Homo sapiens: one gene and its partners. The protein of the gene in region 1 purifies or fractionates together with the protein of each later gene. This does not show direct contact. Each region holds a gene or a part of one and is shown in the gene's direction. Other genes may lie near its edges.

Region 1 (4,329 bases):
GAAGAATCAACAGGCTTTATAATCTGCCCAATCAAAATCCCATCCATTTTTACTTACCTGATGGCAGTTGAACCAAAATGAAGAACATAGCAAATAGAAAATAAAATGTCTTCCTGATCAGGGCCATCTTTTAGGGAAGACTCTTCGGAATAGAGATTGGGATTTCCTTGAGAAGACCCAAATGAGAGGCTCATTTTTATTTAAAAGTAATGGGGAGATGCTCTTGATCCGTGAAGTGAATCAATAAAACACAATTATATGCTCCATTTCCCAGGATAAAGGGATGATATCATGGATAATAACCCTTGGCATCCAGAAAGCCTTTTATTTTGGGGAGTCTAACTGGTGTAGTGGAAAGAACACCAGGCTAGAGGTTGAAAGAGCAGGGGCCATGTGAGTTTCCACCATACTAATGCAGGGGCCAGAAGATAGTGACCCCTTTCATCTCTTCCAGCTTCTGTTTTCTGGGAGAAAATAAGAACCCACTTGCAAATTCTGCCTGCCTCTAAAGGTGTTGTAAGAATCTAGTATGATTATAATGCAAAAGTGTTTTGAATATGTGGAATGCTTGGAAGGAGGCCTGGTACCATGTAAGAACTCAATAAATGTGGACTCTCACTTTTCTAGCTTTCATTTTTATTCTCTACAAGTATCACAGGGAGAAAAGGAGGGGTAGCAATCATTTTGTCAAGTTAGCTCTGAGTCCCCTTTCCTGTAAGATATCACCTCACGCACCAAAGCCATAATTACTGCATATTTTAAATTCATTAAGGACATGAATATTGGCCCAGATGGGTGGCTTATGTCTATTATCGTAGCTTTTGGGAGCCTAAGGCAGGTAGATTGCTTGAGCCCAGGTGTCTAGGGCAAGGCATGATGGTTACCAGCTCCTTGCTGCGCCAACAGTGCCATGGTACAGGTGAGCAGCATGGCAGGACCAAGCACGAAAAGCGTGCAGCATACAGCAAGATTCACATTTTTTAACAAATATATGCTTAGGTCAAGCCCTTTGCCAAGTTTACAAAGCTCAAAAAGACTGAATCTGGAATTCAGATTCCACCTCACTACGGTTCCTCAGCTCTTAACTGAAGCATTGAGATATTGTATAATTACTCCCATTTTACATATGAGTAAACCAAAGCTGTTCAGGAACACAGCCAGGATTAGAAACCAAACTACTGGACTCCAGATTTTTTTATTTTTTCTGTGTCTGCCCTACTCTGTCCTCCCTTCATCCCCACTTTCCTTCTTCAAAACTTTCCAGAATCAGAAATATGATGAGCTGTAGACTGAGTGACACCCACTGAGGTTGGGTGGGCTCTGTGCAGCAGAGCATGGAAATCCTCTCGTTTCTGCTAAGCCTCACTGATCAAGATGTTACTTGGTCTGGAGAAATGTATAAATGTGGGTGTTTGCGGCTCTTTCCTCATGGACACGGTGCTGATCTCTCAAGACCCACCCAGTCATGAGGACTTTCCTCTTTCTCTTTGCCGTGCTCTTCTTTCTGACCCCAGGTAAAATGGGCATCTTTACAGGGAAGGTGATCGGAGGTGGTGTCCCACAGACAGGGTCCCCTTCAGTGAATGCCTGGGCGTGATCAACCCATCTACTACAAGAGGTGATATTCCCCAACGCCTCTTCTGTAATTCCTTTGCATTTTACATTGTTATCTAGGAGGGGCTGTCACAGGTTTGAAAGAATAAAAGAAGGCCAGGAAAGATGCCTTTTGGCATCCCATCTCATGCTCACTAACAAAAACAAAAATTGAGAAAAAATTAAAAACAAGGATAGCAGTCTATGAACCTTTTAAAATGTAGTTATGGTAGAGATTGAGACAGGTAAGGAGAAGGGACAGGTAAGGATCTGAGCTTAGAGACACCTATGCACTCATGCCAGTCATGGCAACAGGTAAAGCAGCGTAACTTGGACTGCCATTTCTTGATCACATATCATCAAGCCAAGTACTGTGATGAGAGCTTCACATAAAATGCATCTAGTCTTCCAGTGCCAGCGCCTTTACGGAAAACTCTGTCTTACCCCTAATTTAATGGAAGTTAGAGAAAATCTTTTTGGGTTTGAAGGTCCATTTTACAAATTTTATTACAGATGCAGAAATTGTGCCTCAGATGGGCTCAGTGCTTCTCAGAGTCTTATAGATAACCAAAACAAAGCCAGGGTAGGAGCCCAACTGTCTTGCCACAGTAAGAGGCATTAAAGACACCCTTCCCATATCAAAACTCTCTTCATTTTCTCCTGCTCCTGGGAATCTCCAGTGGCTCCAATTGTATCCTCTTCAAAATTAAGGCTTAAGACCAGGCTCATGTGAGCCTCCAGAGAGCTGAAGAAAGGGATTCTCAGAGCCCACAGTAACTCCCAATTTCTGCCAGATACCAGTGATATACGATCCCAGGTATGATGCTCAACTTTTCACATCAGCTGCTCATAGCTCTGGTCTGTTTTGTGACAAGCCTGTGAGAGTAGATTCTGTGTCAAAACATGAGGATCTAGGACCCACAGTGACCTATGCCGTATTCAGGCCACTGGTTTTGATATGCACGTTCGAAACTGGCCAGAGGTATCTTTTTCAGATCACTCATACTTATTATATAATAAGTCAAAAAAAAGATGTTATATACTATAAAATTATCTGTTAGATAATACTATAATTATAAAAGTATAATTAGTTACTATAATTATTATGTAATTACAGATACTTATCTATAATTACATAATGCTTGTTATATAATTATTAGATAATCTAATAATTACCTATTAGATATACTAGAGTATAATACTATAATACAATAGTATTAGAGAAAATCTTTTTGGTTTAGTATAGTATTATAGTATAGCATAGTATATACTATAATTATTTACTGATGTTACAGTATGGTATTGTACTAGTATTATATACTATATAGTATTGTACTAGTATATATTATATATATATATATACATATTTTTTTTTTTTTTTTGAGATAGAGTCTCACTCTGTTCCCCGGGCTGGAGTGCAGTTTCACAATCTCAGCTCACTGCAACCTCTGCCACCGGGGTTCATGCGATTCTCCTGCCTCAGCCTCCTGAGTAGCTGGGATTACAGGCATGTGCCACCTTGCCTGGCTAATTTTTTGTATTTTTAGTAGAGACGGGGTTTCACCGTGTTGGTCAGCCTGGTCTCGAACTCCTGACCTCGTGATCCACCCTCCTCAGCCTCCCAAAGTGCTGGGATTATAGGTGTGAGACACTGCACCTGGCCAGATACTATATTATACTAGTATATTATTACTAGTAGTATTATATACTAGTATGTAATATAGTATATATACTAGTATAATACTCTAGTATATAGTATAGTATACATACTAGTATAATACTCTAGTATATAGCATAGTATACATACTAGTATAATACTCTAGTATATAGTATAGTGTATATACTAGTATAATACACAAGTATATAGTATAGTGTATATACTAGTATAATACACTAGTATATAGTATAGTGTATATACTAATATATACACTAGTATACAGTATAGTGTATATACTAGTATAATACTCTAGCATATAGTATAGTGTATATACTAGTATAATACACTAGTATATAGTATAGTGTATATACTAGTATAATACACTAGTATATAGTATAGTGTATATACTAGTATAATACACTAATATATAGTATAGTGTATATACTATTATAATACTCTAGTATATAGTATATATACTAGTATAATACTCTAGTATATAGTATAGTATATATACTGGTATGATAATATAGTATATATACTATATTATTACTAGTAGTATTATATACTAGTACATAGTATAGTGTACATACTAGTATAATACACTAGTATATAGTATAGTATACTAGTATAATACACTGGTATATAGTATATATACTACTATAACACACTAGTATATAGTATAGTATATATACTAGTATAATACTATAGTATACACTATTATACCAGTATATACTATAATACTAGTATTTTTATAGTATATACTAAGCTATACTATGATACTATACTAAACCAAAAAGATTTTATCTGAATACCACGCTATAGTCTATAGTATAGTATTATATTAGTATCTGCCTTACAGTAGGGCAGAGAGAACATAGACCCCTGCCAGTGAGAGCCAGAGTTCATCGAGCTTTGAAATAGTGGAGTATTTTCACTTATGAACTGATGTGCTGATCCTGGATAATCATTAGTGCATATGCTGGCACTAATCCACCTGGCTGTAAGTTTTATGTAGATTTGAATTAGGCACCTTTATATGTTGACATTAAATGTATATACATTATAGTATAGACATTAAA
Region 2 (2,844 bases), on another chromosome or scaffold:
GGCCAGTGCAGGGATCTGTTCCACTCTAGGCACTGCTGAGGGAATGATGCCTCCAGTCAGAGGGTGCAAAAAAGAGAGTTAAGAAAAACAATGATTATAAAAAGTCCTTTTTATACGCCAGACATTTTCTTTGCTCAGGCTAAGTGCTACTTATTTGAGTAAGCATTTTAGTTCTCATAACTCCTCTCTCAAGTAGGTGCTGCTATTACTTTCATTTCACAGATGAGGACATTGAGGTTTGGAGAGACTTAGTAACTTGTCCTCTGTCCTACAGCAGAGCTGGGATTTGAATCTATCTGTCCAAATCTGGAACCCATTTGCTTGCACAGAAAGCTTAATTGCTTGTCCCAGCAAGATAGAAAGCCTGGGAGTGGAAGAAATATTCAGTGGCTGTGATGTCTGAGCCCACAGGCAGGGTGGAGAGCTAGGGCTGGGGCCCTTGGACGTGGGGAAGAAAGGGCTGAGTCTTCCATTTTCAATGTGAAGTGTTGATATCTGGTGATATTGATCTAGGTCCAAAGGTGAAGAACTTAAACCCGAAGAAATTCAGCATTCATGACCAGGATCACAAAGTACTGGTCCTGGACTCTGGGAATCTCATAGCAGTTCCAGATAAAAACTACATACGCCCAGGTGACTCTCAGTTTTGGCTGTGTTTTCTGCCTCCACCTAGCAGGGGTAAGGCCTCCTGCTAGGTGGGCTCAACTCCATGCTATACCATGCCCCATCTCCAGCAGGTGGTGGAAGCGAGGAGGAGAGGCCCCAGGGACTAGGGCATCAGATGAAGGGTCTCTAGCAATGACCAGATCTGAAAGTAGTCTTTCTGGAAGGGCTGGAGAAAAAGAAGGAGGCAGACACTTAGACTGGAAGAAGAGGAGGCTTAAACCAGTGTGATGGAGGGAGAAGTGGACCACAGAGTCAAGGGAGAGGGACTGTGCATCAGGCCTGAAACCCCAGCAGACAGGAGAGACCTTTCCCTGCTCTCAGAACCCACACATGTTCTGACTGTCTTTTTCCAGAGATCTTCTTTGCATTAGCCTCATCCTTGAGCTCAGCCTCTGCGGAGAAAGGAAGTCCGATTCTCCTGGGGGTCTCTAAAGGGGAGTTTTGTCTCTACTGTGACAAGGATAAAGGACAAAGTCATCCATCCCTTCAGCTGAAGGTGAGAGTTCTAGCTCAGTTTCCTGGGCCTTTGGCTACCCCAAAGTAAAAGGCCAAGATCCTCAATGCCTCTCGCTTTCCTGCAAATTCTTATCTTGGCCAATATAACAGGGACATCCACCTTTCTGGAAGCACCAGGCAGAAGAGCCCCATAACTTCTTCTCTGGTTCCTTGCCCCTTCTAGGGAAGGAGGAGAGACTCCTCACAGCGGGGAGACAGCAAGGAGCTGAGCACCTGTTCTCCTCTCCTGGGCTCACTGGTCCTGGCCCTGGGCGGGTGGCGGTCCCCTCCTGCTGTGGCCCTCCATGTGGCAAGCAACACAATTGGGCCAGGACCCTGGCGTGCTGCTGTAGGGTAGGAGGGTGTGAGGGAGCACTCGGAGGGCAGTGTGTCTGCCCTGCAAATTTAGTCCTGGATGGAGCACCTTTCACTTGAGGGGAGAAATCTTAGGAAGCTGAATTAGATACAGATCTAAGCCATATTCTCTAATTTTAAAAACTATAGAGCTGAGATTTTGGTATCCATCTGACTCTTACGTCTCTCTCTCTCTCTCTCTCTCAGTTTATTTTTAATCTGGGGGACAAGAAGGCCTGGAAAAGAGGGCAGGATTGCTTATCATCCCTTAAATACCAGTACCAAGGCTGACACGTCATCTTTCCCAAGGACCATCTGCCTTCTCTCTTTTCCTCCTCTCCTGTGTAAAGGCCTGGAGGATGAGCACATGTGCTGTGTTTTCCTCCCTCTCAAAGCCTGTGCTATCTAATTAATCCCTTTTACCTCACAGAAGGAGAAACTGATGAAGCTGGCTGCCCAAAAGGAATCAGCACGCCGGCCCTTCATCTTTTATAGGGCTCAGGTGGGCTCCTGGAACATGCTGGAGTCGGCGGCTCACCCCGGATGGTTCATCTGCACCTCCTGCAATTGTAATGAGCCTGTTGGGGTGACAGATAAATTTGAGAACAGGAAACACATTGAATTTTCATTTCAACCAGTTTGCAAAGCTGAAATGAGCCCCAGTGAGGTCAGCGATTAGGAAACTGCCCCATTGAACGCCTTCCTCGCTAATTTGAACTAATTGTATAAAAACACCAAACCTGCTCACTAAACTTTCTGTCATTGGGTTTCATTTCTCATTCATGCTTTAAGGATTTGTGTTTTTAGGATATAGCAAGAAGCTTGTTTAATTACAAAGTTCTGGGTTGGAAAGAGACCGGCTTCTGCTTGTGTACTGCTACCCTGAACCATCAGACATGCATGTGTGTGTCATATGCTATGATGTGGCCAGTCTGAGTGCAATACTTGCAGTGGGAAGGAGCAGCTGGGTGCATGCTGTGCTCTAGAATTAGTCTTTCCTACTGGGGTTTGGTAGATTCTGAGGGCATTGATCCTGGGGCAGAAGTGGCTGAGTCTGTGTCTAGGGTACAGTGTGCAAGAAAGAAATGTAACAGCAAGTCACAATCCAGCCAAGTGATAGTGGAAAAGGGGTAGTTAGGTCCCAGATAAGGAGCAGGGTGACTTGACCTGTGGGAAAGGCACAGAGACAAGGAATCTGGGTCAGATGACAGCCAGGAGACCAGGTGAGGGAGGAGCCAGGTACTGTCTGGGAGGCTTGTCAACAAGGGCATGGTCCTATCACTAAGCAGGGCTCAGATCCTCATAATGGGGGAGTGGAAGGCTGGCCGA
Region 3 (3,500 bases), on another chromosome or scaffold:
GTGAAAATGTCCTTTCTCTCTAAAAAGTAAATGAAATTGCATGAGTAAGTGCAGAATGCGGAAGGTGTCTATATCAGAGTCAGTTTGACTACATTGACAACAGTCTCCACAGAGTTTTCTCCTGACCTTTTATTTTCATCTTGATTTTTCACAAGATGCACATCAGGGTGTGGGGTGTCGTACAGCGAAGCAGGGACATGGAAATGGATTCATTGGGAACAGAGGTTGAGTGGCTTCTCGGCTGTGCCTTGTCTTGCCTCGCTTCGGAGGAAGCTAGTTGCCTTGACTCCTAGCTGCCACTTAGATCCACCGCAGCTTTTCATGCAGGAGCCATTTGGGCTGAGGGCAGGATCCTGCAGCCACTGGAGACCTGGCTGCCACACCCACACCTACACCACCAGCAAGCCCCATCCTCTTCCCCCAGCCCACTCCACTCCAGGGCACTCTCACCTGATGCCTAGTTCCAGATTCCGGACTGTCACAGGAAACTACCCTTATTAGAACTCATCCACCCTGCCGCTGTGAGTGCTGAGGCTTGGCCGAGTCTCCGTTCCTCCCTTCGAGTTCTCCATTCCTCAGTTGGTGAACGGGCTGTGTGCACCCCTCATAGCCATCCATACAGCTAACTTGGTTATTCTCATGTGTGTCATTCAAAAGTTCTAAATTCTAAAGCCAGGCCAGAGCTTTTGTGACCTGGTTCGCTTTAAGGGCAACCTCTTCAAAGAGGTTCTACTTAAAGTTCCAGGTCATGACATTTTTCTGCTGGAATTTGGTTGGGCCCTTGGAGTTTTCTTACAGGAATTTGTCCCTCAGCAGGCAAAATGTAAGTTGAGATATACATGTGTTTGTCATAGGAATCATCTTTTGTACCAGGTGGTTTCTGTGCTCTGAGAGTGGGTACAAGGTGATACCATATGTGTTTACTGGGCTATGAGTCCTAACCAGGTGGCTTCAGCCCAGGAAAGAGATGGAGTAGCCAACTGAGACTGCTGCTGGGGGTCTTCAGGAAGTTGCCTGTAGCTAAGTAAAAAATATGTCCTATGGTTTTTCCTAGAAAATGTTGTATGGTATGGTCAGCTGAGTAATAACCCCCCAAATATGTCCACATCCTAATCCCCAGGCCTTATGTAGCAAAAGGGATTTGTAGATGTGATTAAGTTAAGGGCTTGAGGGTGGAGAGAATATCCTGGATTACCTGGGTGTGCCTCATGTAATCACAAAGACCTTTGTAAAGGGGAGGCAGGAAGGTCAGAGTGAGAGGAAGAGATGGATGATGGAAGCAGAGGTCAGAGTGATGTGGCCATGAGCCAAGGAATGCGGGCAGCCTCTAGGTGCTGGAAAAGGCAAGGAAAAGGATTCTCCTCTAGAGCATCCTGAAGAAGCACAGCTCTGCTGACCCATTATAGACTTCTGACCAGTAAGATAAAAAATTTTGGCTGGCATCATCCTCAGCAAACTAACACAGCAACAGAAAACCAAACACCGCATGTTGTCATAAGTGGGAGTTGAATAGTGAGAACACATGGACACAGGGAGGGGAACATCACACACCAGCGCCTGTCAGAGCCGGGGAGCGAGGGGAGGGAGAGCATCAGGACAAATAGCTAATGCATGCGGGGCTTAAAACCTAGGTGACGGGTTGGTAGGTGCAGCAAACCAGCATGACACATGGATACCTATGTAACAAACCTGCATATTCTGCACATGTATCCCAGAACTTAAATAAAAATTAAAAAATAAAACATGCACTTTAATCAAGTACGGTTTATTTCAGAAATGGAAGAAATTAGGGAATTTGAAGTTAGAAAATCCAAAAAATGTATGCATTAAAAATTCTAAGAAAAACAATCATATGATAATCTCTATGGATGGTGAAAAATCCTTCAATAAAATTTATTTCTTGCCTTAAAAAAAAAAAATTGGGCATGGTGGCTTGTGCCTGTAATCTCAGCACTTTGGGAGGCCAAGGCAGGAGGATTGCTTGAACCCAGGAGTCCAAGATCAGCCTGGGCAACATGATGAAACCTTTGTCTCTACAAAAAATTTAAAAATTAGCCAGACAGGATGGCGCACACCTGTAGTCCCAGCTACTCAGGAGGCTGAGGTGGGAGGATCACTTGAGCCCAGGAGTTCAAGGCTGCAGTGAACTGTGATCTCACCACTGCTCTCCAGCCCGGACAACGGAGCGAGACTCTCAAAAAAAAAAAGTGTTGTTTTAAGCCACTAAGTATGTGTAACTTGTCACAAGGGCAATAGGAAACTAAGACAGTGGCCAATCTGACTGTGAAAATAAGGGCAGGCTACACTGGAGAGCAGGGATAGGGACACCCGGGGGGCAGAGATGTGGGTCACCTTAGGGGAGGACACACTCAGGAGGCCGGCCCATGATGGCACATGAAGGCTGGGAGCACGGTGCTCAAGGATCAGCTCATCAGGGAACTTGACCAAATTTAGAGCAAGCCCCTTTGATAGTGTATAGAGATGTTTGTTCTAAGCAGCAATAGAAAGCTTCTGGAATCTGTTCCATTAAGAGGTGATAGAAACAAAATATGAGTCGTTTTGGAGTTGTTTTCAGCAAAGTCACAATGATAGCACCATTATAGATATTTTACAGACATAATCCTGATCTTTTGGGTGGATGACCAGAATGTCTAGTTGGTTCACTGAGCCCTGGTTTTGACCCAATATGGTAATTCGTGAACTCTTAGGAGGCCAGAAATATCCTAATCCTGTGCAAGGCAGGGACCCTTGGACTGTAACTGTCTTGTCTGCTTTTGGTCGTGAAGGAGACTCAGAGGCCCAAACAAGAATTTAGGAAAAAGAGCAATAGGATTGTGTTTAAAAAACACACACATCCATTTTTAACCAGTTTATTCCCTACAAAAAAAAAAAAATCAAGGTACCAATTTTGTTTCCTCTTGTGCAGACTGAGAATAGACTTTATTACAGTGTATTCAAATTCCATTATGCCAAAACAGGATGAGCTTTTGTTGTTTTGAATAATGGCCTTAGACCTGCAGGAAGCTGCATCTGGTGAGAAACATGGTACCATAAAAGAAACCCAAAAACTTCAAAGGTCTGCCACCTTGCTTCCATTTCAAAGCACGCCGGAGAGAACTAAGGACATGTGCACGTGCCCCTTCCTAACTTGGGACCTCTTTACCCTACACCCCAACTGAGGGGTATTTCATGATGCGGTGCTTAGAATGCTGAGATGGAGTATAAAAGACTTTTTTTTTTTTTTTTGAGACGGAGACGGAGTTTCACTCTTGTCACCCAGGCTGGAGTGCAGTGGCATGATCTTGGCTCACTGCAACCTCCCCCTCTGGGGTTCAAGTGATTCTCCTGCCTCAGCCTCCCGAGTAGCTGGGATGACAAGCGCCCACCACCACGCCCAGCTAATTTTTGTATTTTTAGTAGAGATGGGGTTTCTCCACATTGGCCAGGCTTGTCTCGAACTCTTGACCTCAGGTGATCCGCCCACCTCAGCCTCCCAAAGT

Evidence for each region.
Region 2: the proteins of DEFB106A (region 1) and IL37 purify together in Homo sapiens (affinity purification with mass spectrometry, with the first as the bait; one large-scale study listed by BioGRID). This does not show direct contact.
Region 3: the proteins of DEFB106A (region 1) and EMC8 purify together in Homo sapiens (affinity purification with mass spectrometry, with the first as the bait; one large-scale study listed by BioGRID). This does not show direct contact.

Annotation. Positions count from the first base shown.
Region 1 is NC_000008.11:7,823,712-7,828,040, forward strand, and holds the start of DEFB106A (beta-defensin 106 precursor), read left to right. Parts: upstream 1-1,427; 5' UTR 1,428-1,465; coding exon 1,466-1,514; intron 1,515-4,329. Other genes in the region: DEFB105A (beta-defensin 105 precursor), read right to left, coding at 58-127. UniProt on the Homo sapiens protein: Has antibacterial activity. Acts as a ligand for C-C chemokine receptor CCR2.
Region 2 is NC_000002.12:112,916,616-112,919,459, forward strand, and holds the end of IL37 (interleukin-37), read left to right. Parts: intron 1-513; coding exon 514-633; intron 634-1,019; coding exon 1,020-1,162; intron 1,163-1,945; coding exon 1,946-2,194; 3' UTR 2,195-2,267; downstream 2,268-2,844. UniProt on the Homo sapiens protein: Immune regulatory cytokine that acts as a suppressor of innate inflammatory and immune responses involved in curbing excessive inflammation.
Region 3 is NC_000016.10:85,789,545-85,793,044, reverse strand, and holds part of EMC8 (ER membrane protein complex subunit 8), read left to right. Parts: intron 1-111; exon of another isoform or gene 112-748; coding exon of another isoform or gene 749-823; intron 824-3,500. UniProt on the Homo sapiens protein: Part of the endoplasmic reticulum membrane protein complex (EMC) that enables the energy-independent insertion into endoplasmic reticulum membranes of newly synthesized membrane proteins.